2 linked regions of the Homo sapiens genome follow. The protein of the gene in region 1 binds, or shares a complex with, the protein of each later gene. Each region holds a gene or a part of one and is shown on either strand. Other genes may lie near its edges. The genes, in order: ACVR2A and INHBA.

What was found.
Region 2: the proteins of ACVR2A (region 1) and INHBA are in contact, whole or in part, in a crystal structure (PDB 7U5P), measured with the Homo sapiens proteins. Residues at the interface, in NP_001265508.1 of Homo sapiens: Asn36, Asp53, Lys56, Phe61, Thr63, Lys65, Val74, Lys75, Cys78, Trp79, Leu80, Asp81, Asp82, Ile83, Asn84, Val100, Phe102; in NP_002183.1 of Homo sapiens: Ile340, Ala341, Pro342, His346, Arg397, Pro398, Met399, Ser400, Met401, Leu402, Tyr404, Asn409, Ile410, Ile411, Lys412, Asp414, Glu421.

Annotation. Positions count from the first base shown.
Region 1 is NC_000002.12:147,834,561-147,850,220, forward strand, and holds the start of ACVR2A (activin receptor type-2A isoform 1 precursor), read left to right. Parts: upstream 1-10,468; 5' UTR 10,469-10,592; coding exon 10,593-10,647; intron 10,648-15,660. UniProt on the Homo sapiens protein: On ligand binding, forms a receptor complex consisting of two type II and two type I transmembrane serine/threonine kinases.
Region 2 is NC_000007.14:41,695,997-41,710,613, reverse strand, and holds the start of INHBA (inhibin beta A chain preproprotein), read left to right. Parts: upstream 1-7,523; 5' UTR 7,524-7,609; intron 7,610-10,096; 5' UTR 10,097-10,239; coding exon 10,240-10,627; intron 10,628-14,617. UniProt on the Homo sapiens protein: Inhibins/activins are involved in regulating a number of diverse functions such as hypothalamic and pituitary hormone secretion, gonadal hormone secretion, germ cell development and maturation, erythroid differentiation, insulin secretion, nerve cell survival, embryonic axial development or bone growth, depending on their subunit composition.

The sequences.
Region 1 (15,660 bases):
TTTTGTAAAATTAGTTGCCAACAGCTTTTCAAATGTTGCTTTTGTTCAATTAATGTTCTCCTATCCTTCTGGGATTCCAGTTACAGATACGTCAGAACTTAAATTGTCCTACATATCTCTTATGATCTCTTCTGTATTTTCTATCCTTTTTACTCTCTATCCTTAAATCTGAGTATTTACTATGTCCTTCCTCTCAATTCATTATTTTTTTTTTGCCGTGCTTGATCTACTATATACCCATATTTTAATTTATTATAATTCTTCTAATTTTGGTTACAGCATTTCCATTTGGCCCTATGTTTTACGTGGCTGGTAATTTTTTAATGAATGCTGGGTATTGTGAAAAATTGCAAAAACTCTCCATTAAGTTATCTTTTTCCAGAAAGAATATAACTTGCTCCATCAGTCGTATAATATATGGATTTATCATACCAATTTAGTCATGTTGGATTTCAGATTTTAGGGGGCTCATCAACTTCCAGTTTGTCCTAAATCTTAAAGCTTAGCCTTTACTTTGCAAAGAATAGTCTTCTTGAGTTCTCATCTGAAATCCTGAGGTATTTTACTTGGACTCTCCCTCCTTGGTGGTCCCCAAATTCCCATCTCTGGTTCCCAAGGTCTCCAAAATTGGCAAAATCTTGGCTAAACTCTTTAACCTCCAGCTTGCTCCTTTACCCTTAATTTCTCTACATTTCACCCTGCATAGTTGAGGAGTCAGCACTGCCTTGAAGGGATATTGCACAGAATTTTGGACTCCCTTTTGGTTTTCTCAACTCCTGGACCTTAGTTCCTCAAGTCTTAATCACTTTGGCACCTCAAACTCCAACATCTGTCTCCCTAACCCAGTGAAACTACATAAGCCCAGACTGCTACTTTCTTCTTAGCCTCTATTACTCGTGCCATGTATCTGCAAGTACCAAAGTGAAAAGCTTAGGTGAATGTGGGGCTCAATTCAATATACTTCTCTCCTCTCTGGGTTCTTTGTCCCCCCAGTACTGTCTTCCTTAGTTCCTCTCTAGTGGCTTCAAATAGTTGTTGAATAAATTATTTTAAAATAGTTGTTCATAATAGGAGAGTTAATGTAATACAAAGTATTCTATCATAGCCAGAAGCGGAAATAGAATTATTTACTTTTAATTTGCAATTTAAAAAGAATCTACTTTCAATAATCTTCTCATTTGTGGTTTTAAAATTACAGAGTCAAAATTGAGTGAAAAACAATTATGTACCTGGGTGGACTTGAAATAAGAGAAATGAGTCAGGAAGGCATTTATTCAAATAATAAATAAAATTTGTACAATTGCTATTTTTCTATGATTAGCCTAAATAACAAAGGGTAAATTGGATGCCTGAATTATCTTGGTGTTTATCTGATACAGCAAATTCACCATTCTGTGTAACCCAGGTCCAATGATAGCATTGAAAAACAATATCAGACATTCTTTTGGTTTTATAACTATAAAGTTTAGTGCTTTTTCTGTAACAGTTATTTTGTATTACTTTTCAAATTGATACCAGTTATTTCCTCTTTAACAAAAAGGCAAGTTTAACAGTTCTGTGGCCGGGGGGTGGTTTTATTTGTTTGTTTGTTTTTGTTTTTTGTTGTTGTTGTTGTTTGTTTGTTTTAACTAAGTAAAAGAAGTAGGTCTTTTTACTGTGTTGCATAGGTCTTCTGGATGGGACATGCTCCATTTAGAGTTCTTTTTCCTGCTTGAAGGAACAATTAATATGCTTACTACTTGAGAAACAGCATGGCTCATTGGACTAAGCTTTGAGTCAGTAGTTTGGAGTTATAATCCCATTTCTGCTACGGATTCAATTTGTGCCCCTGGGCAAGCCATTTAACCTTTGTATTTGTTCAGCAGAAAATAGGATAAAATTATTACTTCATTTCAGGAGTAGCTAATAATAACTGCTTTTGAATATAAAGAAATGCACATAATGTATTTTGACCAGTTAAAATCACTGCAAACATTCCTACAATTTAGTTTCCCCTAAAGCTTCAGTATGGCTTTGATTAAAATTCTTCTGATTTAAGTTAAAATGAAGCACAATAAAGTGCAGTTAAGTGTTTTGTTTAATTTGCATTCTTAAACAGGTGGGCAAATCCAGTGTAGTTAAGCCTAAGAAAACAAAAATTAAAAAAAAAAAAAAAGAAAAGAAAAAACAATCGCTCTTTCCTTACAGGCTTTAAAAAAAAAAAATGGTAAAAAGTACTCTATATCATTCTCTGTCACCAAAGTGCAAAAATTTACATTCATACCAAATAATATTAAACTTACACCTATTATTTTTCTTTTCTTATTTATAATTCTTTAGAAATAGAGTATTAAATAATAATTATTCCTAAAATGTTATGATAATTTTATCTCAGCACAGATTGACTCATCCAACACCCTGGATACTTTGACATCCCAATTCTTGGACCACCTCATCACCAGTGACCATTTTTTCTATCACTACTATGGTAACTCCCTGGCCATTGTCATTATCAGACACAATTCCTCTCCAAAACCTTGTTAATTTCTAGTCTCTGGCCATAGCTCCTATCCTTCTAGCTCACTTGCTTAAATATCTGCCAAGAAGCAATGGATCCTCCTACTGATGTCAGTTCTCTAATCCAGCGGTCCCCAACCTTTTTGACACCAGGGACCGGTTTTGTGGAAAACAATTTTTCCATGGGGGTATTGGATAATTTCAGGATGAAACTGTTTGACTCAGGTTATCAGGCATTAGAGTCTCATTAGGAGTGCACAATTTAGATCCCTTGCATATGCAGTTCACAATAGGGCTGGCGAGAATCTAATGCTGCTGCTGATCCCCGGAGGTGGAGCGCAGGTGGTAATGCTTGCTGGCCTGATGCTCACCTCCTGCTGTGCGGCCTGGTTCTTAACAGGCCACAGACTAGTATAGGTCTGCGATGTGGGACTTGGGGACTCCTGATCTAATCCATTCTCCTATCAATTCTTTCTATCCACATAGCCTCTTCTAGACTGTCCTTTCTTTTTGTCCAACTCAAATTCTGTGAGTCATTGTTCCAATGGCTCCCATATAATTCCCATAACTTCTTTACCCCTCACTTTCTCAAAATCACTTACTTAATAAATCCAGCCATGTAAGAACTCAATCATCTGCCTTCTCCGTGCCTGCCAACACCTCTACGTTGCAGAAAATAATCACACAGCTGGGTAGACTGGAGTCACCAATCTCAAATGGGCACTCAACCCTGGCAATTCCACTATAAAGCCTCTCTCTCCAGTCTCACTTAGGACTCTTTCATACCTTTTCATCATGCCCCTTTCACTTTAAGGTGAAAACCTTGCTTTACATGTCAGAGAAAAGAAGAGCCCTCAGCTGGGATTGCCATTATGCTCCAATGTTCGGTTCTGTAAACTCATCTGCTTCTGCAAACTCATCTGCTTCTGCTTGCCCTTCCTGCCTCAAAAGGAGGAGGAGGAGGAAGAAGAGGAAGAGGAAGAGAACAACCACTCTCTTCTCAAAGGCCAACCTAACTCTCTCATGTTCTGAAGCTTGTCCTTTCTTGCCTTCACAAGTATTTTGCCCATTCAGTTTTCCTTTCTTCTGCATTTTCAATCTTTCCTCCTATGGCACCATACCTATGAGTTTACATATATAATTTATGATGTCTCCTCTGAAAAGAGAAACAAAATAAAATCCTCTCTTGATTGTGCATTTCCCTTTAGCCACCACCCCATTTATTTGATTTTTTTAAATAGCCAAATGTCTTTAAGGCTTTGTTATTTTTGTATTTTGTTTTTATTTATTTATTTTTGAGACTGAGTCTTGCACTATCGTCCAGGCTGGAGTGCAGTGGTGCGATCTCAGGTCACTGCAGCCTCCGCCTCCCAGGTTCAAGCAATTCTTGTGTCTCAGCCTCCTGAGTAGCTGGGACTTCAGGCACGCACTGCCACGCCTGGCTAATTTTTGTATTTTTAGTAGAGACAGGGTTTCGCCATGTTGGCCAGGCTGGTCTTGAACTCCCAACCTCAGGTGATCTGCCCACCTTAGGTTCCCAAAGTGCTGGGATTACAGGCATGAGCCACTGCGCCGGGCCAAGGCTTTGTTATTTTTGATGTTTCTAAATTTTCATTTACCATTGACTTCAAATATTTCCATCTAGCTTCTGCTAAAACTACTTTCAAGGATGTTAATTCCTTCTATGATGCCACATCCAATGGCTTACATTTTTGTTTTTCATTTTGCTGTATGTCTCTATCGGATTCAACACTGACCCTATCTTCCTTTTGTGAAACACGCCCACATGTGACATCCGTCGCCCCTGGTTTTTATTTAATCTCTGCCTGCCACTTCTTTATCCCCTTTCCTGGCTTTTAATCCTCCACTTGATTGCTACATTTATTCTTCTCTCTCTCTCTCCTCCCTATTTAGATACTCTCATTCATTTCTATGGCCTTAAATACCATTTGCATGGTGACAACTCCCAGATTTATATCTGTAGCATTGCATGTTGCTCCAAACTTCAGTCACGTAGATCCACTTGCTTATGTTACACTATCTCCATTTGAGTGTCTCACAGGCATCTTAAATATAACATTTTTAAAACTAAGTATTTTCACTATTCATCTTTCCAATTTCTGCCCTATAATATCTCTTCCCTTTAAATCTTCCCCATATCAATAAATGACATGACCTCTACTCATTTGCTCAAGAAAAAAAGTAGGAGTCATCCAATCCATCAGCATGTCTTCCAGAATATATCTTAAATCTGCCCACTTCCTTCTGTATTAGTTTACAATATTATCGTCTCATGTCTGACTTACTATAATGCCCTTCTAACTAATTTCTCCGCTTGCTTTGGTAACCTCTTGCAACTCGTTCTTCATGTAACAGCCAGAGTGATCTACTAAACATAAGCCAGACCACACAACTCCCTGACTTAAAACCCTCCAATGGATTGCTACTTCACTTTGAATAAAATCCAAGGACCTTACTTTGGTCCATAGGCTGTTGCATGGACTGGAGCCTATTTTCCTCTCTCTCCTTATTCATACTACTCTCCTAATTGCCATGAGAGCCTTCTTTCAGTTTCTTAAATACATCATCTGTACTGTTTCTTCTTCACTAGCTTCTTTCATGGTTATCTCCTTTTCATCTTCCAGGTTTCAGTTGAAATGTCACATCCTTTGTAAGTCCTTCCTGAATCATTTTCTCTAAATAGTTCCCCTCTTCCTATACTATCCCATTGCTCTTTATCTTAGCATTCTGTCTGCTTTTATAAATAATCCTTTCCATTTGGGAATTACTTGTTTACTGGCTGTTTTCCTGTCTTCTTCGTGATACTGTCAGCTCAGTGATGGTGGAGACTATATCCATTTCATTCGACACTTGTACAACCAAAATCTAGCACAAATTCTGTATCTGATAATTACTTGTTGAATAGATGAATGCCACAGAGAGTGTAATGAAAATGACTGACCCTTATGTGGACTTGTATTATAGAAAATTTCAGGACTATAACATCAAAGCTTTATTCGAGATTTTAAGCACTTGTCAAAATGGATGAAGGCCATTTTTTTTTGAGAAAGAATTGTGTATATAGTCTGCTTTCTACTCCAGTAGGAAATCCATTCTTAGATCCTCTATGATGAATTTCCAATCTGTGAGACCTTTGTGAAGTCAAAGTACAATAAAATTGAATTACTAAGAACTTGAGGCCGGGCACAGTGGCTCACACCTATAATCTGAGCACTTTGGGAGGCCGAGGTAGGCAGATCACTTGAGCTCAGGAGTTCAAGACCAGCCTGGGCAATATGGCAAAACGCCGTCTCTACAAAAAAATGGAAAAAAAAAAATTAGCCCGGTATGTTTGGCACACGTCTGTAGTCCCAGTTACTCAGGAAGCTAAAGTGGGAGGATCACCAGAGCCTGGGAAGTCAAGACTGCAGTGAGTGGTAATTGCATCACTGCACACCAGCCTAGGTGACAGAGTGAGACCTATCTCAAAAATAAAAACAAAAAACAAAACACTTGAAATTAAAACAATAAAATATAAGCTCAATTATTTTATAGTTTCAACAGACGTAATTATCAAGTTTCTACAAAACTTTGTGAACAATTGTTGTCTGTGTCCATACATATCTCATTAAATATTAGTAACAAATCTTTTGAGACCAGCACTGGCTTAAGACCTACACTTTGAGTAGTGCAGGTTTACTCCATCATCCTTCCATTTGATATTGGTTTAAGGTAATAGATCTCAAATCCTGAACTATTCTTTGTCGGGTATGCTAAATGCCCAACCTCCTGCAGAGTATTTAGTATCCTAGTCCTAGGACACTAAAAACCAGTGCCATCACCCTTACTAGTTATTGTCCAAACCAACACCTTTCCCACCTCCTACCCACCAATGGGGGAGCATCAGCAACGCCATAATTTGGAACCACTTGGGGGTGTGGGTTCTGACAGTTGCTCAGTAGTGTTAGCGTAGGCACTGTGGTTATCAGCCTGGGGAGGAATTGAGTCCTAGCACCTGTTCAAGAAAATTAAGCACCTGTGGTAATGAATTTAAAGTGGAGGGTGGGAAAGAATCCTTGCCAAATTATGCCTATTAGTTTTGTTTCCTACACATTTCTTGAATTTTGAAGGGGGCGATAGTGGGGAGAAAAAGTCAAATATTACCTTTGGGATGTTGGGATGTTGAGATTTATATTACATCACAGTTTCTCTTAACTCTTCTAACTCACTTTCTCCTTCACCTAAAATCTTTTGTCTTAACACTTTTCCCCTTATCCATTCCCACATTCTTATCCTCCTCGATATGTCTTTTTGACCCCATTGGCACAGTGCAATGCTATACAGATGGACGTTAAGTAGAAGGGGAGGAATAAATAGCAGCAAAAGCTAGGATGTAGAGAATTTTCTTCCCACCTTGGGCACTTAAGGAGAGGGGGATATTTATAAAAGATACATCGATCATTTCTCCCTTCCTTGGACTCACCAAGTTACCAAATTTATTCCCCATGCATTATGCCTTACAGCGTTGGCATATAAGAAATTCGTTACTTGTGCCACTTCAAGAATGCCCATGTCATCTGAACACAGATTTTTATAGTAGCTAGAAAGCAGCACGAAAGCTTCTAAGTCCTTCATTTAAGGGGAACTTAACATCCTCCATACTCCAAAGGTTTTCAGTCATCTTCCTGAAGATGAAGGAAAAGAGATTAGACGTGTGTTGCTGAAGTGTCTGTTGGTGGGTCCAAACGCAAGTTCAATTATAACCCAGTTCATTTCCAGCTCTACTTCAGAACTGAAGATTTAAACTTCTCCACATCTTTTTGAGCCATGACTTTGTTAACACAAAAAGAAATCTTTTATTCTGGAAGCAGTCTGTGTCACTTATTTACCTCTACCTCCTCATCCAGCCAACACTCTAGATTGAACTGGCTTCTCAAGATTCTTCCACCTGGGAATAATTTTCAGTTCAATTGAACTTGGCAGGACTCTGAACTTCAAATTCTAGCATTGGAGTGGCCATAAGGCTAGGTCTTGGGGCTGGGAAGTGAATGAAGTTAGCTAAAGATGTTTATCTCATAATGCCCGATGCTCTGGTCGATTAGAATTCATGTTTCCTTTTCCTTTCCTCTCCTTTCTCATTTTCCTTCCCAAACCAGGTTTTACACCTTGCAATGTGTTAGGAAGTGGTTGTTGGATTTATGGATTTTAAAAAGTGATTCTAGAAAACAAGGAGGAAAGAAGGGCAATGGGGTTAGCTGTAGCTACCTCTTTTTAAGCTTTGAAGCTCCGGTGGAAATTAGTCACAATTCCTTGTCTTTTTAGGTTACATTATTTTTGAATTAAAAAAAAAAACGAAGGGGTAATTGAACACATTTAGGAACAGAATAGCTGCGTTACTGGTTGTTAATACTTTTCCCATGGGGTTTTCTGTCTTTGTTAGAAAGGAATGTCCTCGTGAAGACTGGCTGCTTCTCTTTAGTACTACAGAAAAATAATTTTCATGCTCTCGTTCTTATAATGGCAAATTTAGTTGGTAAGATAAGGAATATATTTACAAGTTTCAGTTGTATTACTCGCTATTCCAGTTATTCCACTTGCTCAGGCTTCACAATTAAAGAAATACTGAAGTGATGCACAGATAAGACAAGAGTGGGGCCTGACCCTAACTGACATCAAATTCTCTAATGAACTTCAAGTGTTTCTAGAGTAAAATATACTCTTCCATTCCAGAACCGTTAGTACAACTCTTAATTCAACCAGAAAATGGAAGGCTTACACATATTCCTTTGACCAACTCATAAAGATAGGAGAACTACATGAGATCATTCAGACACCTTTAATACCGACTTGGGACTTTGTAACTGTTCCAACATCAGTCAAATTCTGAGCATCACGATTTGAGAACTGGCAATCTTGGAGAGATTTAAAGAGCCACGTTGATTATTAATAACCCTGATAAGTTGTAGAAATGGGCAGATAATTACAGGATGAACTTAATAGACAGAAATACAGAGTAATTTAGAGGAAGTAAACTGCTGTAAATATAAGTGAGAAGACTTGGCTTTGTGGGAAAAGGTGGGAATCAGTAAACCACAAATGAAACATGAATTAGCCATATTATACAGTTGTTTTATTAAAAACCAAAACTTTGTAGAGTACATTAACAGAGACTGTATTTAAGAGAAAGGCAGTCATCCCTTAGTCATTTATACAATTATTTATTAAGCACTTATGTGCTAGTTGATACTTCTGGGTGCTGGAATAAAATAAGGAAAAAATCAAGATCTCTACCTTCACGAAGCTCACTAAAGTGTGGTAAATGACAGAGCAACTACCTTCAATAGTCTCTAGTTTGTATTCTGCAACCAACTGAATACAGCAAATACTAAAAGCTACTTGAGGTAGGGATCCATCCTATTTTTACCTGTTGGATCCCATTCCGTGCCTAGCACACCAGCTTGTAAGCAATCGACATGGATTAAGGGGTAAAAACAGGCCCTTAAATAGCTAAAATTTTGACAAGTAATCACTTGTCTGATCATCAAATATGTCGTTCGAAATCCTCATTTTTTTCTTCAAAGCGCAGTAAACAAGTATTTGCGCACCTATTACGTGCAAAACAGTTTTCAACACAATGCTTTGTGTGTAAAAGGAACGGCGGGAATGGATTCAAGTTGCGCATCGTGATAAATGGCGTGAATATCCTGAGCGGGTGGACAGCCCTTCCTCCGTGAGTTTTTTCTTTTTCTTTTCTAGTCACCAAGACAGCACGCGTGTGCAGAAGCTGCAGCGGTGGGACGCAGTGCTAAGTCTGGGGGCGCACACACCAGCTCGCGCGTCGCGAGCTCGCCTGGGCAGCTCGGCGGGCGCGGCGAAACAGCTCCCACGTCCGCCTTCCACCGACTCCTCGGTATCAGAGCGGACGAGGCGTCCCCCCAGAGGAAAGACTGGGCGCCGCAGACGCCCCTTGGAGAAGTCCCTGGCCACTCGCCCCACCTCGGGGTCCTCTTCCTCTTGGGCTTCTCCTGACCCTTTGGGTGGGCGCTCCAGACAGGCCCGTCGGACGCGATTTGGAAACGGGTCGTGCCCGGCCTAGCCCGCATCTACTCGCCCGGCCACAGCCCAGCCACAGCTTAGGGACTTTGAGGCGCCCGCGCCCCTTTGTCGCGGTATCTCTAGCCCAAGCAGGCCGGACGCCGAGGCCTCGCGGTATCGAGCCTCCGTCCGCCCCGCCTCCTCGCCCTCCACTCCGCCCCGCCCTCGCTCTCTCACCCCTCCCCCGCTCCCGCCTCGCTTCCCCGACAATCTCCTCGCGCTCCCGGCCCGGCACGCGCGCTGCGCCCGGCCGCCGCTGCCGCCGCCGCCGCCGCCGCCGCTGCCGCCGAGCGTTCCTCCGCTGCGCCTGGCTTCCAGCTTCGGGCCGGAACCGGAAGTTTGGGGGGCGGAGCCCGGCGGAGGCCAGGAGACCGAAAACGCGGCCGAGCCCGGAGCCCGGAGCTGGAGCCAGAGCCTGGACCAGAACTTGGCCGCCGCCTGCACCGCCGCCGCCGCTGCCGCCCGCCGCCCCTTCCCCGCGCCGCAGCCGCCTCGCCGCCACCGCCGCGAGCTCGGCCGCCAGTGGTCCTCGGACTTTAGGTGTCTGGGTTGAAGGTCGGTCCGGACATCGGACCCAGTCAGTTCCCAGACTGTCCGGGCGGCAGCGGACGCCGCTGCCGCCGCCGCCTCTTCGTCGCCTCAGCCTGGCGTTTTGTTCCGAGAGACGGGAGAGGCGAGCGGAGCTGACAGTGATTTTGACAGTGATTTAAACCCGCTTTTGTTGTTGTTGGCTTTTCGTTGTTTGGTTTTGTGTGTTGTGCGTGTGTGTGGCGGTTTTTCCCCCGTGGTGCATTTTATTTTTTATCGTTGTGCTCTTTTTTTTCTTTTTTTTTTTTAACCCAGTGAGCGTTTTTTTTTTTTTTTTTTTTTTTTTTTGGTCTGGGCTTCCGAATATGTTTTATGACGGTTGATTTTACACCAGGAGGTTTGTCTCCGAGGAAGACCCAGGGAACTGGATATCTAGCGAGAACTTCCTCCGGATTCCCCGGCGCCTCGGGAAAATGGGAGCTGCTGCAAAGTTGGCGTTTGCCGTCTTTCTTATCTCCTGTTCTTCAGGTAGGTGCAGGGAGCGCGGCGCGGTGGGGCTGCTCCTGCGGCCGCGGCGGCCGCTGCTGGGGGCCGCGGCTGGTGTTGAGTCGGAGAGTCCAGTGGAGCCTGGGGAGGTTGCCCACTCCCTGCGCCCCTCGGCTGCCACCGCCCCCCCCCCCCGCCCCCAGGTCTGATTGTGATCTGGAAACCTCCATGCATTTTTCTCTTTTTGAGTTGGGTCGGCGAGCTGATAAGAGTGAGTGCTGTGTTGTTGTGGAAGTGAGAAAGTCATGTTTTGTGGCCATAACACTGGATGACAGCGCTGGTTGGGTTGCAATTAAGCCGCAAATACCACAAGTGACAATTTATGCAAAGGTTGAGATCTGAAAGGAGTATTTAGTGTGGGCTCCTCCAAAACAAGGGTTGCTTTTTGTCATCGTTTAATTAGTGCTTCACCGGTGAATATCACGACATAGATCAAGCCAGTTGCTGCTTAATTTTGGCTGTGGGAAACAATACATCCTATCAGCAATTTAATCTGGGTCTCCCCTCACGTTTTCTTCAACTTCAGCGTCCAGCAGTGTTAAAAATAGTTGTAGTTGTTGTTGGAGTATTAACTATAACCCAGTGCAGAAGAGGTATGCCGCTTGGTATTGGTAATGTGCTGGCGTTCAACCACCATTTGTGTGCTCTTTTGGGGCATAGATTTTGCTTACCTACGGAATACTTATTTTAAACGCTTTGTATTGAAGCATTGTTTTCGGTTTAGAACAACCCATGTGAAATTGTTTTTGTTAAATATAGTACACTCATAAAATAGGTTTTAGCTCAAGGTTGGGGGAATAAACGGGCCATTTTATATTGGAAATTTTGATTTTGTGAGGACGTTCTATGGTTGCAACCAGTGGTTGGAAAAACTATCTAGTCTTTTGTATTTGAAATTCTATAAATAAATACAGCATCTAGCTGAAAGGTGTGCAGATGTACATAACAGGAGAGTTAGTTCAATAGATGAAACATTTTAAATAAGTCTCATTGGATCTATTTATTGTAAAATTTAATATTCAGTTACAAGCTTGTGGCATAGAATTACGGGGGACTCTTGGAAACGGGGGCGAATTGACAGGTTTCATGGCCATGTCTTTATCTCGTTTGCCACAGGAAAATTAAAGGGTGGTAGTCTTCTTTGTGTACCTCTGTGGGGTGTGTGTGTGTGTGTTTGTGTGTTTGTGTCCGTCTTCCCCACCCCCCTTTAAATATAATCTTTTGTAATGTATAGAATTTTGCTGAATGGTACATTTCCTTGTGGTTAATAAATGGATAAAGTCTAGTCTTATGTCTGTAGTGGTATTGATCAGTTCCGGGTGGGCTGAATGTGTTGTGAAATGGCGATCATTGCCAGAGATTAACCAAAAGAATCATGTCTGTTTAAATGGAAGAAGGAACATGCTTAAGGCAGGCTGACAGTTCTTTTTGTGCACGGTTTGGGAAGGAAGCTAAACAATGGTGTGTCTGAAATGAATGAAGGCCTTGATAACATTAAACCTCTTGCTTTTGTGACATGACTTAACCATGTAGTTTTTATCTTTCCAGTAGTACTCTTTTTTCCTCTGCTTCTATATGTTGTGGCTGGTGAACTCCTCTTGTTCAAATCCCTTGTTCTGATCTCTTGCCCTTGAGGAGGAGGGGCATCATGGCCACTGACCAAGGAATTGTGGACATTATTCCCTCTCAAACCCACCTGAGTCACACTAATTGATGAAGGAGGTTATTCTTGAGCAGTCTCAAGGTATTACTTCTTGAAAAGCAGGCTGTCGCTACAGATCTTACAGCTTCTTCTGCTTGGTTTGGTAGTAAAAATAATTGAGCATTAGTTTCTTGTGGGATTATTTTCATTGGGCCAGGATTATTTTCAGTGGGCCAGGAGGTTAATAGCTATAATTTTGAAATAAAGTGATTTTGTTGCTGTAGGGCATATAGATATTCCACTTATATTAAACTAATATTATGTTGTTGCATAGGCTTTTTAAGATGAACATTCCCAGTTGAACTAAAATATGTGATTCTGTTGAAGATAATTGAAATAATCATAAAGACCTTAATCCATATTTATACATGAACAATTTGAGTACTTAAAATGTCTGATTTTTAAAAGCCTTTTGTTATGGATCAGATGCACTCTAAAAAAGGATTATTATGTTTCTCCAACTAATTGATTTTTCTACAAAATGTGTGATCTGACATGTTGGAAGCATGAGGTGACTATTTTTATGAGAATTTTAAAAATTCTCAGGTTGTCAGTTTTTCATTTCTAGATATTTGATTTTTTTTAAAAATCAAAATGGGAAACAATAGTAAGGAACAGTTTTGTTCCAGGTGTTTAGGAGGGATGTTTACTATTTCGTGGACTCTGATTTTTCAGTTTCCATCCCATGGTATGTATTCTGGAGACTGATTATGCAGACTATTCCTGTAGGATATGGCCAAGTGTATAATTTCCTCCTCTCTCTCATTCCAGGGGAAACATTTTAAATTTTGCCCCTATCCTGGAGTGCCTTCAGATTACCTTTGATTTTGAATTTTTTCATTCCTCTCATACTTTCTCAGATTCTGTTTCAAAACATAAATCTTAGTTTTCTTTTTATAGCATTGTGGTTTATTTGTGTCTTTCCCCACAGTTTGTTGAAGTATGAGAATGACTTTAATACTTGCTTTAGTACTTAGATTTATCCTATCTAGAGTTATGCAGCTATTGTGGTATTTGAGTTGCATAGAAGTAAGTTGAGAATTCCTTTGGATTTTGTGGGAGCTGGAGCAGTATGGTCAATGTATTTGATGAAAGAGGAAATGGAAATATGGTAATTATGTTTTCTTCAGTTCAGCTAGGCAGTACTGTGTATGTGTGAATGTATGTGTGGTTGGAGGGGGAGTTAGCATTACAGAGAATCTTTTGGGATTCTTTTGAACTTTGATTAACAAGTGATGGATGATAAATACTTTGTTTTCTAAAAGGCAGAATCTCTTATAAATGGTGTCTGTGGTCAAATTCAAATATAATACATTGAAACATGGAGACTAGAAACAAAATGAAACAAAATTCTCCCTCCATTCATTTTCTATTTTTTTTTCCTGTTTATGATCTAAGCCAACAGTTCTCAAGCTGGGGTGAGTCCCCCTCCCTACTTCCCCAGATCCCCATCCATGGGACATTTGGAGACATTTTTGGTTGTCACAACAGGGGACGGGGTGTGCTACTGGCATCTAGTTGGGTAGAGGGCAGGGATGCTTCTAATCGTCCTAAAATACATGGTACAGCCTTCCACAACAAAGAGTTAGCTGGCTCAATATGTCAGTAGTGTAGAGGTCAAAAAACCCTGTTCTAAGAAAACCAAATACCACATGTTCCTATAAGTAGGAGCAAAATGATGAGAAAACATGAAAACAAAGAACAGAACAGCAGACACTGGGGTCTACTCAAGGATGGAGGGTGGGAGGAGGTAGATGAGCAGAAAAGATAACTATTGGGTACTGGACTTAATACCTGGGTAATGAAGTAATCTGCACAGCAAACCCCATTATACGAGTTTACCCATGTAACAGACCTTCACATGTACCCCCAAACCTAAAATACAAATTAAAAAAAAAGGAAAAACTCAGTTCTAAACTCTTAAATTTTAAAAGCAGTAGTTTATTAGTAAAAGGGCTCTGCTCTCTTCCCCCTAAAGTTAGTAATCTAAATTTTACAAGTACATGGTATTGATGATCTCCAGGTAACGTTGTATTGAAAGATTTTTATCTTTTCATTATCTTTTAAATTAGAATATGATTAAATTAGAGAAACAGACTATAGATACGCACATTCTTTCATCCTTGATGAAATGCTTGAGAATTCACCAGTATAGTATAATATTTTATACTATAATAAAATATTCCAATGACTTATGGATAAACTCTCCTATCACCGATTTTGATAGAGTGCTCATGAAGACTGCATGTTCCTGGACATAATGAATGATTGGTTAAGGTATCAAGTTTAATTATATTTGCTTTAGATCCAGGATTTTCTTTGCCATGATATGATCTTTAAGGATATTTGCCTTTATTTTTACTGACATCATTGGGCTGCCTTATGGCGGTATTCGTGTGTGTGTGTAACATGTTGCCTGAAATATGTTCACTATTACATGTTCCCTGAATAGTTTCAAGGTAGAAATTCTGTTTTTTTAAAAAAGATATTTCTTTTGTCTAGCTAACTTTAATTTCAAGAAACTTTTAACCTAATCTCTTAATTACATAATTATCTTGAGAATCACTAGCTGGGTTTTGGTTACCGTTAGACTAATTCATGATACAGTAAGTAATATTTTATGATCTATTGCAGATCGTTTCCCTTTTTAAGGCTAAATCTTGACCATAATTAATAAAATGCTTACCTTGTTTTGAACTCTGGTTTTAAGGGAGTTAACCTAGCCAACCAAGATAAGAATTACAGTGAAACTCTTAGCAAATTAAGGAGCATTATACCATAGAGAGGAAAATTCTGAAGTCATTCCCACAAATGGTGTCCAAATGAGCCTCACAGTGTCTTTGTAACACACCTCTCCATACCCTTCTCTCTGATACTGACATTTTCGCCTTTTGGGTCCACCAGACTCACTGTTCTTAAGAGAAGCACAACTAAACCAAATGAGATTTTAGTAATCTCTAAATTGTTTCTTTAGATTCCAAGACTTTATTTTGTTGCATTTTGACTTTTTAAAGTGCTACTATGATTTTCTCATCTTTGATATTTCATGAGTCCAATGATTTAAATTTGTGTTTTCATGGTCTGTTAAGTTGCCAGTTGCCATGTTGTCTCAGATTATAGGTAAGGTTGGCAACATTTGATACTAGGGGTCACTGGTATGCCTTAGCTTTTTGCTCACTGCTCTGTAACTCATTGTTTTTTCCATTCCCTTTCATTATTGTTCCCTTTCCATTTTCCTCCCTTCTTTGTCTACTCCCTTTTCTTCCCCTGACCCTTCTGTACTTCCTTATACT
Region 2 (14,617 bases), on another chromosome or scaffold:
CCATCTTTCCAAGGCTCTACAAAATAGGATGCAGGGAATTCAGGTCAGCCAATAAAGCTTTTTTAAAAAAGGAAGAGAAATAATACCAGTAAGCAACATTGACTGTGTACCAGCACATTCTATGCGGCTCACACGACTAACTCAGCTATCCCTGACAACAATCCTATCTATGAATATTATTATCCATATTTATTATACTAATTGTGGAACCAAGTCATTTGCCCAGGAGTTTGAAAGTGGTGAATCCTAAATTTGAACCCAGTCAGTCTGACTGCAGGACCCACACATTCAACCACTACCTTTTGCCTCATCTTCAAATGGTGTTTTGCATACTTCAGAGCACTGAGGTGGCTGTGCCCTTGGTCACTGGGAGGCCATACTTGGCTGCACCCATTTGGACTGTCAGGATCTTCTCCAGTCAGAGGCCACCGCCAGGGCCAGAGACAATGGAGAATTATTTAGTATCCAGTGGTTCTAGAAACTGCCTCTGTTTCAAGCCCAGGAAGAAGGCTTTCTGAGGAGGACATTCCTTCTTGGGACAAGGACCCTTAGTGAGATTTGGCCTTTATGCACCTCCATCTGAAAAGCTAAGCTTTTCTCTGGGAATTTGAATTGAAGGTTAGGGATGATTGCTCAGATGGGGAAAGTGTGAAATGGTAATCACTTTCATATGACACTCGAGAAATGTTATAATAAAGCTGAGTAAATTGGAGCATGAGTTAGCCGGTCCTTTGCCTAATGATGTCACTCACTTTGTGCTTCCTCCAGCCTATGATTAATAAAAGAGGGGTTATGACAGTAACTCACTCCTAGTGGGCAGCAGTGACGTCAGCAGCAGCTGAGCAAACTGACTACATTTAGTTGTGCGTGTGTATGTGGGCATTTTTTTTTCCTGTGACTAACATGAAGATAACAGCATCTAATAAAACAAAAGCTCCTTGAAATTTGGGAAACTTATTGGGTGAACTCTTTTCTACAGGGAGCACCATTTTAATTATTCTCAGCTCATAGTTAAGTGATGTTGGAGTTGGCCAAAATTACCTTGTTGGCTTTCTGCCCCTGTTTCATTAAGGGATCACAAATGAACCCCTGGCCTTTTGGAGAGAGGTTTTCTGGAGTGTTTTTTTCCTTCTACTATAGAGGCTCCTCCCTCATTCATTATACTCTTCCATCTTTTAAGAGGAACTCAATGAGTAGAAGAGGGATTGTAGCCATAAGTTATTTTTTGAAAGTTTAAAGCTGGTTGTAGAATTCAGTGATTCCATTTTAAACTTTGTAAGAATATTGTGCTTAATTACAGTTTGCTTTTCCAATCTAAAGTGACAGAAGTCCTACTTGCTATTTCACCTTTGCAAACTTGACCTTCCTAAAATTAGAGTGGGCCACCTGGAAATATTTACTCACCTAGCTGAGCTGCTGCCAGTGTCCACGCGAGTCCACAGGACTCGTGAACAGCAGCACTCAGCCCATGCCTTGGAGCTGCTCCCACAGAGGGCAGAACCTTTGGACTCTATTAGGACACGAGGGAGGCAGCAATTCACTGATTTAAAAAAAATACACACAGAACTGCCCCCAGGCTTTTCTGTCGGGCTTTTTCCCTCCAAGCAGCGATTTGGGAACAGGTTGTGGGGGGATCTTTGTGGACAGGCAAAAGTGGATGCAAATCAAGATTGCTGCTCTCTTATCAGTCCAATGGAATCTACGTGCTAAACCACCATGTCTTCAAGTCACCAATGGAACTTATTACCCAAGGGGATCCAGGTGAGAAAAATGATTACAACAATCTGTTCCGCATTCCTTGGGGGGTATTTTTCAATAATCTTCTGAGGCAATAGGAAGATAAATTGTTGAAGCAGATGTTTCCTGATTGGGTTAGAACTGAGTCATGATAAACAATTTTGAAATATATATTGGTCAGGAAGAATGTTGAGGGCATATTTCTTCAGGTTGAGTTAGTCTGGGTTTTTTTCAATATATGTTTTTATATAGTGGTTGTAAATGAGTATTTCTTTCAATATTGAATTTTTTTTACATGTACTACATGGTTACTTCTTGGGAAGAAGTCCAGGCATTTCTGAATCATTTGAAAGTTGATTGAGGCCTTTGGTTCCAAAATGACCATTTACCTGAGGAGACAGTGATTCACACGTTGGAAGAGATGATACGGCGTCAGAGTGTCTAAGACATTCCCCTCATGGCTCCCTTCATCTTAAAATGATCTCTGACCTACCCTTTCCTTTCTGGATGACCCATTTTACTCAGGAGCTAAGTGATGAACCAGGGAAGTAAGCACTCACTGTATGGACAACAGGATTTCAGTTCTAAGCTAGTTTTATCCAGGCAACTTCCCTCTTGTGCATTTCACCAATACTTGTTGATTACTCTTACGATTTTCCATGAGATGGAATCCTTCACAATAGTTTCCCCAGTCCTCACAGGAGAGCAACACCTGGAAGGGCATGGCCTTCCTTTAATAGACACACCACTTCCTTTTACAAAGGAAGTTTGGAGAATATAATGTTGCTTGCAACAGCCATTAGGATTTAGCAAAACACTGTTTTATCTCTTTGGATATTGATTGTATGTCATTCCCCTAAGGTATTAAACAAATAAAATCAAGCTACATCATATTTGTTTGCTCTAGGAGAAAGGCATGGTTATCCTACGTTTGTGAATTTTACTTCAGGGAATTCTCTATTGCATGGATTTATCTGATACTGAATTGCTAAAATGAACAACTCAATCCTTTATTCATTTACTCTTTTGCATGAGTCTCTTGTCTCCTAACAACTTGGGTGTGGGCCAGCCCATCTCATTTTGTTGCTGGTCACCAAGATTCTGCTTTAGGTCAGAACAAAAAGCCAGCAGGAAAATGTATTGAGACCATACGTGAAAGTTGGTTGGAACAACGAGGTTGCCCAAGAGGAACATTGTATCTGTAGTCTCCAGTAATCAGAAAACATAAGATGCAAAAGGAAGCAGAATCACTTGAATTATTAGTATTTTGTAGAGCTGCAATTTTTTTTTTTTTTTGGTTTCCAAGGCCTCTTGGAGATGGATAGGGAGAAGGTTGAGTGAAACTTTACAATTATAATATGAAATCAGGGTATCTCAACTGCAGAACAATGAACACTGTAGGCCAGGTAATTTCTTGTTGTTGGGGGCTGTCCTGTGCATGGTAGGATATTCAGCAGCATCCCTGGGCCCTACCCACTAATGATCAGTAGAACCTCCCTCCCAGCTGTAACAACCAAAATGTCTTCAAACATGGCCAGATGTTCCCCGGGGAGCAAAATCGCCCCGGTTGAGAACCACTGCTGTAGAATGAAGAGTAATAGGTTACTTACTGGGTTTTCTTCCTCCTTCTCTTTTCCCTAATTGTTTTAGTTCTAGTATCTGGGTTCCCTTGGTTCAGAAAGCAGCATTTCCAAATAATCTAAAAACAGAGTGCTCTTACATAGCAGAAGGCCTTGTGGGATATTCTGGTGGTTCTGAAAGAAATGTGAAGCTTACGAGTCAAGTTTCAGATTAACCATTTCTGACCCTGTTGTTCTCAATGAATTTCAGGGGACTTTTTAATGCTTTCCTCTCTCTCTCTGTTTCGATCTATTCATTCATTGATTTAACTTAAAAGCAAAACAGCTTCCCAGTTCAATTTTGAACGTGAAACGCTGATTCTCCTTTGTCCCAAATCTTTCTACCTAACATTCAGCCCAAGCTATGTACAGGCTGCGGCTGTCCAGGAAACAGGCAGGGTTTGCCAATCCCATGTTCGATTTAAACCATTTGATGAGACCCTTCATCACAGACTCTCGCAGTCTCCCTGCAGCAAATAGTACTCTGGATCCTGCCCACGTTCTCTGGATTCTGAGCTGCCTCTGGAGGGAGTCACCCCTCACCAACAAGGCCAGGTTTTCCGGCCTGAGCCCCAGAATAACACATCAGCTGCTGGGAACACCTCGAGTCCTTTTGATTTCTCTCCATAGTCACGTTTTATGTTCGGTTTCCCAGACGGGATGAACCAGAAATCATGCTTTTTTGGAAACAGATTTTTTCATAGGAAGGAAAGAAAACACCGTGACTCGTCAGCACTCTTGTCCGTGCCTCTGAACCCCCAGCCTTGTGTCATTTCAGCTGAATCAGAGAACAACATCCCAGTCACCTGCTTGGGGCGTTCGCGTCTCCTGGCTTGTATTTTTGACTGAATAACAGCAATCCGTGAGCAGCAGCTAAAATAATAGAGCCCTGAAAAATGCCCCAACCCCCACTCCCTTTTCTGGTCCTGTCTCCTTGCTCCAGGAGTAGTGAGGAAAGAGACCAGTTAATAGCGTGGATGAAAGCTGAAGGACAGACGGTTTGAGAAGAAAAGTGAACATTCTTGCTTCCTCATCTATGCCAACTTTGAACAGGGACAGCTGCTGCCACAGGTAAACACCACTATAGGGTTGGCCGTGGCCCTAAGCTAGGTGTCACCGTAAGCCACGGGCCAGCACACGAACGCTGGCCTCTCCCCCATTCGCACAATTGAGCTCTTATCCTTAAACGAACTTTGTTTTTTGACCAGCTCACTAATTGTGATTGAAAACACCAGCTCCCCAGCAATGCACACGCATTGGAGTTAGCAGCAGCAAGACAGGCCCTAATTGCTCCATTTACATAAAAGTAGAAACATACAACTTCTAAATATAAATCTCTGGCACATCGTTCCTTTTGCAATTACAGTAAAATAAGGTACCACAGTTTCCCTCCCGGCTCCTTCTCGCAGCAAGCTGCTCCACCGGGTTCGCTAGTGGCTGCTCCTCGAGGCGAGAACAGAGCCATGCAAATGCTCCAGCGTGGAGTTGGGTTTGTGAAGTCGCCAGTAAATCAGGCCGCCTCCACTAGGTGAATAACGCGGTGGCAGCGGGCCACTTTGCTAGTGCAGTCGCTGGAGGACCGCGCTCCGCACTCAGAAGGGGGCAGTTGGCTGGTGCGCGAGCGCTCCCGGCTCGCCTCTGTCCGCGGGGAGCCAGCCGGCCCCTCCGCAGGTCCCGCTCCCTGACATTTGCTGTGGTTTCACTCCCTGGCACTGAGGGCTGGGTTCAGAGATTCCCAGCTGCACTCACTGAACAGTGATTTTTTTCCCCTCCCTGAATTCTTTAGCTGCCAAAAGGGGGGAAAAAATCAAGAGCTGCTCTTAAAAGAAGTTGCCCTTGCTGGTGCTCAGGGTAAAAATAGAGGCTGCCGCTTAGACCGGCTTGGCCCTGGCTCCAGGCATCCTGCGAGCTGGGCTCGAGCAGCGGCCGCGTTCCGGCGTGATCCCTGGAAGCTGCCAGCAGGTGCTGCTCAAGGTACAGTAGCAGGGCCGAGAAGCCGGGACCCGAAGGGCCTGGGGTGCGGGGAAGCTCCGGGGGAGGGGGAAGTGAAAGAGAAACCAAACCAAGGAAGGAGAAGGAGATTCTGGTCAGGACTGGGCTGACCAGCTTGTGCCCCGGGCCCTTGAGTTCCGCAGGGAAAAGCTGATTCCCAGTCTAGAATATTCCACAGAAGCTATTTTAACCTGCCTGCTTCCTCCACCACCCCCACCTTGATTTGCACCGAGGGAGGAGGCATTGCCACTGTGGTGCAGGTGGTTGCAGAGGGGTTGCAGCACGGCTGGTAGGCTGGCCTGGCAGGTGGGCACTCGGTGGCATCAGATGGCCAGCGGAGTTTCAGAGTCACACTTGTGTTGTGGCTCCTCTGGTCAGAGAGCTGCAGATTCCTGTGACACCCATGTTTAAGAACAGCCACCAGGCTTCTCAGAAATAGTATCACTTATTATTATCTGACAGCTGCACTTGACCCCCACAGGTTCATATCATGGATCCCATTTTATAGATGGGAACACTGAGGCCTGAGTTTACACGGTGAGTGAGCAGAGGAACTGGGATCTGATCTGGGTTTGTTTTGTGCCCCCCACCCCCACCCCACGTCACCTACACACACACACACACACACACACACACACACACACACACACACACTACTTTGTGTGGAGGCGGAGGGGATGTTTTCAGGACACTAGGGTTCATGTGTGGGTCAGGGGTGAGTTTAGATGCCCTGAAGGTCATTGACTCCACTAATTCTCAGCAAAAAGGGTGGAGAAGTTTCTTTCTTATAAAGGGTTTGAGTTCACCCAGTGCTAAGCTGAGGGGCAGGTTTGGAGTTCACCATCATTAATCCTATTTCTGTCTTCGCCACTCAGATTCACTCTCTTCCTCTACAACCTAATGATTTTTTTCCTACTTCATTTCTGCATATGCAGTTCTTAGAATACTCCTTCCCCCCACCCCCATGCAGCTCAGCACCCACACTTTCTCTGTATCTAGCCAAGAGAGACCCTTTTACACAGAAAACTTCTGGTGTCCTAATGGAACCTGCTTAAGCCACACATCAGGAGGCCAGAGCCTCTATATTTTGCTTGTGGGCACAGTGAAAAGTTTATTTTATGCATGTTAAATCCTGCATACAAAACAACATATCTGGTCATATGGCTCTCATTAGCTCCCAATTTTGCACATTTTATCCAACTTGTCATGAGAACTGGGCTTATGCTTCAACTGTAGTCCTTCAAACAACCCTTCACCGTTCTTGTCAGAGGACCCCTTCCTCCTGTGTTATTTACCAGACTTGCCAACACCCCTCCCCCACAAAAAAAGCCTGACCAGCTTTACCCCTATTTCAAGGAGTGTTCACTTCTTTTCATTAATCTGCTGTTATATTTGTAACAATTTAGAAATTATAGGAGTTGAAGTTCTGGTAAAAAAGAATGATGCATGAGGGTTTTTGTTGTTGTTGTTGTTGTGTGTGTGTGTGTGTGTGTGTGTGTTTGGTTAGTTAGAATGAGATTCTAAAGACCTGGGAAGGATACTTATGAAGTTCATTTAAAGAGAATTACTATTTCCAAAGTTCTTGATTTATGAAGCAGGCATTCAATTTCAAGATGTAAAATAATAGTGTAAGTTGGTTGGGGTCGGGGGAGACCATCATCATATGATTATACAGATTTTCCCAATTTTTTTCCTCAATGAAATAGCTTATTTTAAAAATATAAAATTAGAATCCCTATAAAGAACACTACCAATTTTCTTTCCTGAAAGAAACAATAAAATACTTTGTAAATAGAAGCAACTTCATGAAGTAACAGATGTTTTATGTAAAGACATAAAACTGAACCTGAATATAACGAGACGTGTGTGCGAGTAGTAAAAGTTGAAAGTTGGACACACTCATTGAGACATATCTATTTGATTCCAATGTTTTTCTAAAAGGTAGAGTAATCCTAGCCAGAGGTTTCACTGGCTCAGTGCATCACCCAGTAGTGTCTCAGAAGCCAGGAAGGGCTTTCCATTAGATAATGAATTATGAAATGTCTCACACTGGAAAAACCAGTCATCCGCTGATGTCATGCTGATTCCAACCAATCCCAAACAAAGCCCCAGCCCTCCTCTGTTTCAGTGGTACCAATGTGTGGTGTACAAATAAGTAGTACAGTATAAAACTTCACAGTGCCAATACCATGAAGAGGAGCTCAGACAGCTCTTACCACATGATACAAGAGCCGGCTGGTGGAAGAGTGGGGACCAGAAAGGTAATGCTTTTTAACTCTTACTTCTGAGCTCTTTACACATTCAAAGATAGGAAAGCTAGGAGGAATTTTACAACTAATTGGCATTTCCAATGTGCATTGTGATGTGTACCTTTTTATATTATTCAGGCAGGTTAATACAGCTTTTAATAGTCCTAGAGCATGCAAATAGATTATATGTTTATACAAGCCACTCAGCACATATATACAAGTACATATGCCAAAGAGAAAGCTATTTTTAAGAGTTACATTCGCAAACAGTAAATTCAGGGAACACACACATACTCAGATGCAGAGAGAATCCAAATATTGATAAGTTGCACTTATCTAAATGCTGCTATTAGGACTCCTGAGTTGTTTAGAGCCATTAAACTTTTGGTTGTATTTCAGACTTTCTTGTAAAACTTAATTGAACTGCAAAACATTTTGGGTACTGTATATGTGACTCCAAATAGGTGGATGATGTTAAGTATTATAGCACAAAGATTTTTTATAAAACCATTGTAACACAAATGTCCCCTGCCTCCCCCATTCTCTTTCACCATCCCCGTAAAAAATATGAGGCTTTTTAGGCAATGTTGACAAAGTTTTAACAATAATGGTGGAGTAATTGATGTTTCTGGAGCTGAAACCCCAAAGGTGTTAGGTTACTTGTAACAGAAAAAGTCTTACAAATAGTTGTTTTGGAAAAGGGGACAGTATATATAATTCAGAAAGCATTGTTAACCTGTGCAAACTGTAATTATAACTTAGTGTCACAATTTTCTTGCCCTCTTCCCCTTGCACTCAGATCTTATCTTGTAGTAATGATATTTATTAACTCTTTCCACCTAAACTGCATTGCTTGACTGTAATGCTATGAACACACTAGGTGTCAGATATAAGCTGAGTGTATCTTCAGAAACCAAGAGGGCTTATGTGTGGGAAAGAAACCGAGAGGGAAGGAACGCTTTAACAGATGGACCCCTTAAAGATTCTTCTGCAAGATAAAAGCAATAAGACAGAAAATGAAAAAGAGGGGAGGGGGAAGAATTTTTTTTAAGCCTTAGAAAGGCATTGTTAAAAAATTCACATTTTTCTTTTTCTGTGCACACTAAAATCCATGATGATTTCATCTGCACTGTTCCTTTGAGGGAAAAAGAAGCAGTCAAGGAGGCTGTCTATGAATGCACTGGTCGGGACAGGCTTGGGGCAAGCTGAAAAAACTACCACATGACAGAGAAAAATAATTTGCCAATATATTTTAGAGAGTCTTTTCCCATAGGACCAGTTATTCAAGTCATACGAGTGCACTCTTTTTATAAAAGGATGTGGGAAAGGCCAAGAGAATTTTGCATTTTATCTGTGAAGTCCGGCGAGTGGTGGTAGGCTGTAATGTGTGAGAGTGAGTGGGTCCCCGGCAGAAGGGGGCAGCTGAACGCGACGGGGAGAAAGCGCTTCTGGAACTTGGGCTTGTGACAGGCTGCCTGCCCTCTGGTCCTTCAGTGCCCTGCTGCATTTCACAGTTGGGAAGAGTGGAGTGTATTATATGACCCCAAACAAAAGTTCCATTGCGCTCTCCTCAGATTGCCTGCCAGTGTTGATGACCTGAACATTTAAATATGAATGAATTGGGGGAAAGGACCATCTCCCCTGGATCCCATCAGGCCAGAACAATCCTCTGTTACCCCTGAGTCCCTCTTCCCTGACCTCCACTACCTGTCCACTGGACCTCCCTGCACCCTCTGCCCCACCACGTGGCCAGGTGGGCGTTCTACCACCTAGGGCTGTGGCTTGGCTGGGTGGAGGGGCGGTGGGAACACTTTTTCAATCAATTCATCCCTATTGATTGAGACACTGTGTTTGTTTGGGGTTTCTTTTCTCCCCTCCAAAAAAGGAAGAAGGTGAAACCAGGAGACTGGGCAGAGAAAGAAAAAAAAATAGTGAACAAAATTAGGATAATTTATTTTAGAAGAGAAAGTAGAACCCCCGAAAATGGTGATATTTGAAGAGAGGTGTCTGTGAGGAAGCTAAGAGCAGAAGGAGAGCAGCCTGTCAGAAAACGGGCTGTCCCTCCCTCCCTAATCACAGCCCTACTCACAGCAAACTCCCTCCCTCTCCATTCACTCACTTACTTAGGGCCAATCCTTTCTCTCTCTCTCTCTCTCTCTCTCTCTCTCTCTCTCTTCCTTTCCCTCTCTCCCTCTCCCCCTCCCTTCCCTCCCTCTCTCCCTCTCTCTCCCCCTTCTTTCCCTCTCTCTTCTCTCCCCCTCTCTCCTCTCTCTCTGTCTCTGTCTCCCTCCCATCCTCTCTCTCTGTCTCTGTCTGTCTCCCCGCCACCCTGTCTCTCCCTCCCTCCCTGTCTCCCTCCCTCCCTCCCTCCTTCCTTCTCTCTTACTCGGAGACAGTCAGAACTCTCCTCCCTGACAGCCACAAACCTACAGCACTGACTGCATTCAGAGAGGAACCTGCAAACAAAACTTCACAGAAAACTTTTTGTTCTTGTTCCAGAGAATTTGCTGAAGAGGAGAAGGAAAAAAAAAACACCAAAAAAAAAAATAAAAAAATCCACACACACAAAAAAACCTGCGCGTGAGGGGGGAGGAAAAGCAGGGCCTTTTAAAAAGGCAATCACAACAACTTTTGCTGCCAGGATGCCCTTGCTTTGGCTGAGAGGATTTCTGTTGGCAAGTTGCTGGATTATAGTGAGGAGTTCCCCCACCCCAGGATCCGAGGGGCACAGCGCGGCCCCCGACTGTCCGTCCTGTGCGCTGGCCGCCCTCCCAAAGGATGTACCCAACTCTCAGCCAGAGATGGTGGAGGCCGTCAAGAAGCACATTTTAAACATGCTGCACTTGAAGAAGAGACCCGATGTCACCCAGCCGGTACCCAAGGCGGCGCTTCTGAACGCGATCAGAAAGCTTCATGTGGGCAAAGTCGGGGAGAACGGGTATGTGGAGATAGAGGATGACATTGGAAGGAGGGCAGAAATGAATGAACTTATGGAGCAGACCTCGGAGATCATCACGTTTGCCGAGTCAGGTTGGTGCTGGCATTGGCAGGGGGTGGGGAGGGGTGGGGGGTGGGAGGGTAAAATATATTTCTTTGACAGTCCCAGGAGGAACTTCTTTTCCCTTCAGCTGGAAACTGCCTGGGAAGGTTATTAGTTATTAGGTGATGGTAGCGGACTAGCCGACGGAGGGCAGGCAGGGGAGGGGGAGAGGACTTTACAGAAAAGGAATTCTCGGTCGAGCTCTGCCTGGAGATGACTGGCTTACACTTACTAAACCCAGCGGGTCACACAGAGAGGAAGCTCGGGGCCAATGTTGAGCTGGAAGGCAGACTGTGAGGGGCTGCCTTGCCCTGCCTGTGAAACCAGATCTGAGCAGCCGGAGGAAAGCCGCGGCATTTTCGGGTGCTAGGGGAGCAGAGGAGGCTTCCGGACCCCATCCAAGTTTTTATTGAGGGTAGAGGGGTGAATGTACCAGGATTGGAGTGGAATGGCACAGATGAAGTCACTCTCTTAAAACAAACCTTCCCCTTTAAAAGTCCAATCTGGGGCCACATTGGAGAAGCAGGGCATATTTATGAGTGACAGTCATTTTTACCTTTAGAAAATGTCTATAAGTGCACAGGCACCACATTCAAGACAGGGAAGAGCTACTTTGGGGGACAGTTGTCATTGAACCAGCAGTTACTTTTGGGACACTGACTTTTGCTCTCTGAAAGAAAAAAAAATAAATAAAACAACCAGTTTTGTTCTTTCTAAAGTTACTAAGAGCTCTCTGCCAAGGAACGCAACCTTGACAAAGTACTCTCAGATACTACGCTGAACTCACTCAATCCTTAAGAGGAAGAACTTTAATAAATAGATTCTAATCGTTGGCCCAGGACCACACTAACCTGTTGCTGAATAGCAATACCTGTCAAAAGTATGGGCCCATGGACTTGGAGCCAGGCTATTTTTATAGTTAAGTGACACAGATCCTTTGCATGCCTGCAAGCCCATGCACGTCAGGCACACAGATGTGTTAATACCGTGTTACTTTCATGGTAATGCCAGGCTAAAGAATTGCATCCTTTGCCAACTCCATTTGAAAGGAATGCCATTGTTTTGTTTGGTAGAGCATATGGCCAGTAAAGTATGTGCAGGGACTCCCAGCATTTTTGTTTAAAAGTTTGCCGCAGCAGTATAAACAATTAAGGCAACACTCAGAATTTCCAATCTGAAAACCTGTTGACTCAGATGTTCTGTTTTCAAGAAAACCATGAAAGACCAGGGCATCTTTCCGGGGGTGCAGATAGCCTGCTGGCTGTGTGGCTTCCCCTTGCAGGAGAAGCCCTGGTGTCCTACAAGCTTCCCAGTTTGGCTCTCTCACCAGAAGCCTCTCTCACTTAGGGAAGATCCTACTTTCTTTCCCTAAAGCTCTTTCTTAACCCAGCCCCAAAAGGCATGATCATTAGGACTTTATCTTCTGGAGCTTTTTGAGGAAGAAAGCTAGGTTGGAACTTTTCAAGTTGACACCCATTTTTTTTTCTCAACTTTTCATGGTGGGAAAAGGTAAAAAAGAAAATATTTACAATATTTGGCTGTGCATGTGAAACAGATTTCAGTGGTCTAGAGGGTTGCTTCCTGTCTTTGTATACCAACCTCCACACATGATGGATTCAATGACAGCTCGTATCCAGTTGCCTTTAACCATGTCATATGACTAAGTATACCTATGCCTTTGACCACTTTTAACCGCACTACCGTTACTAGCAATATGCCCCTCTTTCTGACTTACTGGACTTGTATAGCAAATCACTCTCTTAGCATTTAGAGATTTGGCAGTGAAAAAATTTGACCATTTACATTCTTTCTTATGTGTGGTCTTCCTTTCTGTGACAGTCTTCTCTCAGTTGTATGAGATCTTGTCATTTTTTTACTTCTCAGTTAGGTGTTTAGTTTGAAAAAAAATGAGCGACTTTTGAAAAAGCGATTCGTTGGACGTTCACATTGAGTCAAGTTTAAGATTTGTAATGGGAAACTCCTGGTTGACTTTACAACTTGACTTTGGATTCTTAGAAAACACTTATTACAATTGCTTATTTTTCTCTGAGGGATTTCACACATCAACTTCAAGTTGATTTAATGTAATTTCATGTATTTAATGATTGCTGTATGGACTGTCTACTCTTCAAGCAGAAAACCACGTGAGCATTTTGCTGCTGATTTTGCTAGTCCAGAAAAGACATTTATCATCCAAATGATTGTAGCAAATATATGAACATGAATAGAAAAGACCTATGTCTTGTTGCTTTTGGAATAATTCAACTTTAATAACATTCCAACTATGTGGAATGTCAAGAGTTTTTGGAGAATAGAAAAAGGAATGCATTTTTCTTTCCCTTATAACCATTTTGTGCAGCATAGAATCCAGACATTGTCACCCATGAGCATGCCACAGATGCAGACCCATAGCAGCCCCTTTCAACCTCAAGATTCTTCAATTTGAGGCTACGTTTAATTTTTGCCTTTTCTCTCCTTGATTGTTGGATAAAGCCAAGGCCTGGCTACAGAAGTAGAGAGCCTCCAAAAGCTGAAGTGCTGAGGACTCTTTTAACTGAGTTTGTCCCATCCTGTTTAGGTAGAAAGTGCTCAATTTTTGTAAAGTTGATGCGAGTTGTTATTGACTAAACAGCAGGGAATCACTCTAAGGCTCTCTGAAATGTATCCCAACAAACAAAAATTATTTTATTTTTATATATGTCACATCACCCAAGATTTCTCACCAAGGTTAGTGTGTTCTTTGCATGGCTGGCACAAAACCCTCAATGTTTTACCTTAAGGCCTACAGAGTTCTTCACAAGGAAAGATAGAAGGGATGGGTAAAGCCAAGCTATCACTATAAATGTCATGAAGCTAAATTCAGTGGCCTTTTCAGCTGATGCAGCTTATTTTTATTTTATTTTGACTCATGACAGTAGGTGGTCAATCAATGCATAATAATAATGTACCTCTAAGTCTCCATATGCTGTCAAACCTGGATGTGGGTTCTGGTAATTAGCTTAGCAATTGATAGCACTTGTTGTAGAAAGAATAGGGAAAGAAAGACAAATGACACACCAAGAAATGGATGTGCTCACGTAGCCTAGGTGTTGTTAAGCGCAACACATAAGTCTACCCCTTGGAGGATACTATGTATGGAAGATTTGAGTTAGAAGTTTGCACTGCCCAGACAGGGATCCAAGAAGCTTTGCTTGGATGACCATTTTCCCCACCCCAAGAAAGCCATCTCAAAATGAAGCTGACTCCCACCATTCCAATCCCACCTTCCGAACTTTTCTGTGAATCACCCCTCCTTTAGGGATGCCTTTAGGGGTTACACGCTCTCTTCCGTGAATAATGGGGAAGAGCGGCCACAAGAGGGCGCGTTCCAAAGACTTTTGCTCCTTGTCAGTGTATCCAGGGAAAGGCAGTTGCGCGTACTGGAAGCCCCTGTCTGTAGCGCCCTAATCTTGGTGATTATCAGTTACCGCCTGCTCCCTCTCATCCTGCAGAAAAAGTTAGGAATTTATGAGATGGGAGAAGCATGACTACCTGTAATACATTAAATGAGACAGAAGGAAAGGAAATGGAAATTCTAGTGATACATGTGAACATTCCGGAGCTCTATGGAAGGCAGACGAGTGATAAATTTCAAAAGCAAACAAAGCGGAGCAGGGAGAAATGTGACTATGAATCATCAGCGATACTGATTTGCTCACAAGTCTCTCCCTAATACGGTCTCCCGGGTCGTAACAAAAACATCTTCCATCTCCCCTGATTTTGTTGCCTAGTTTTCCTGCCTTATCAACAGTTTCCACCAGCGACAAATGACAAGTGACTTCAAACAGGGAGGAAAAAGGTTCTTTCTGTAATGCCTTGTGGGAACATGGTGTTCGGCTTCTGAGGATGCGTTTGTTTCCGAACTGAGGGTGTGGAGAGAAATGGTGGGAAAGATGGGAAAAGAGATTAATAGTGGTCTGCGGCCTGTGCAGTGGATGGAC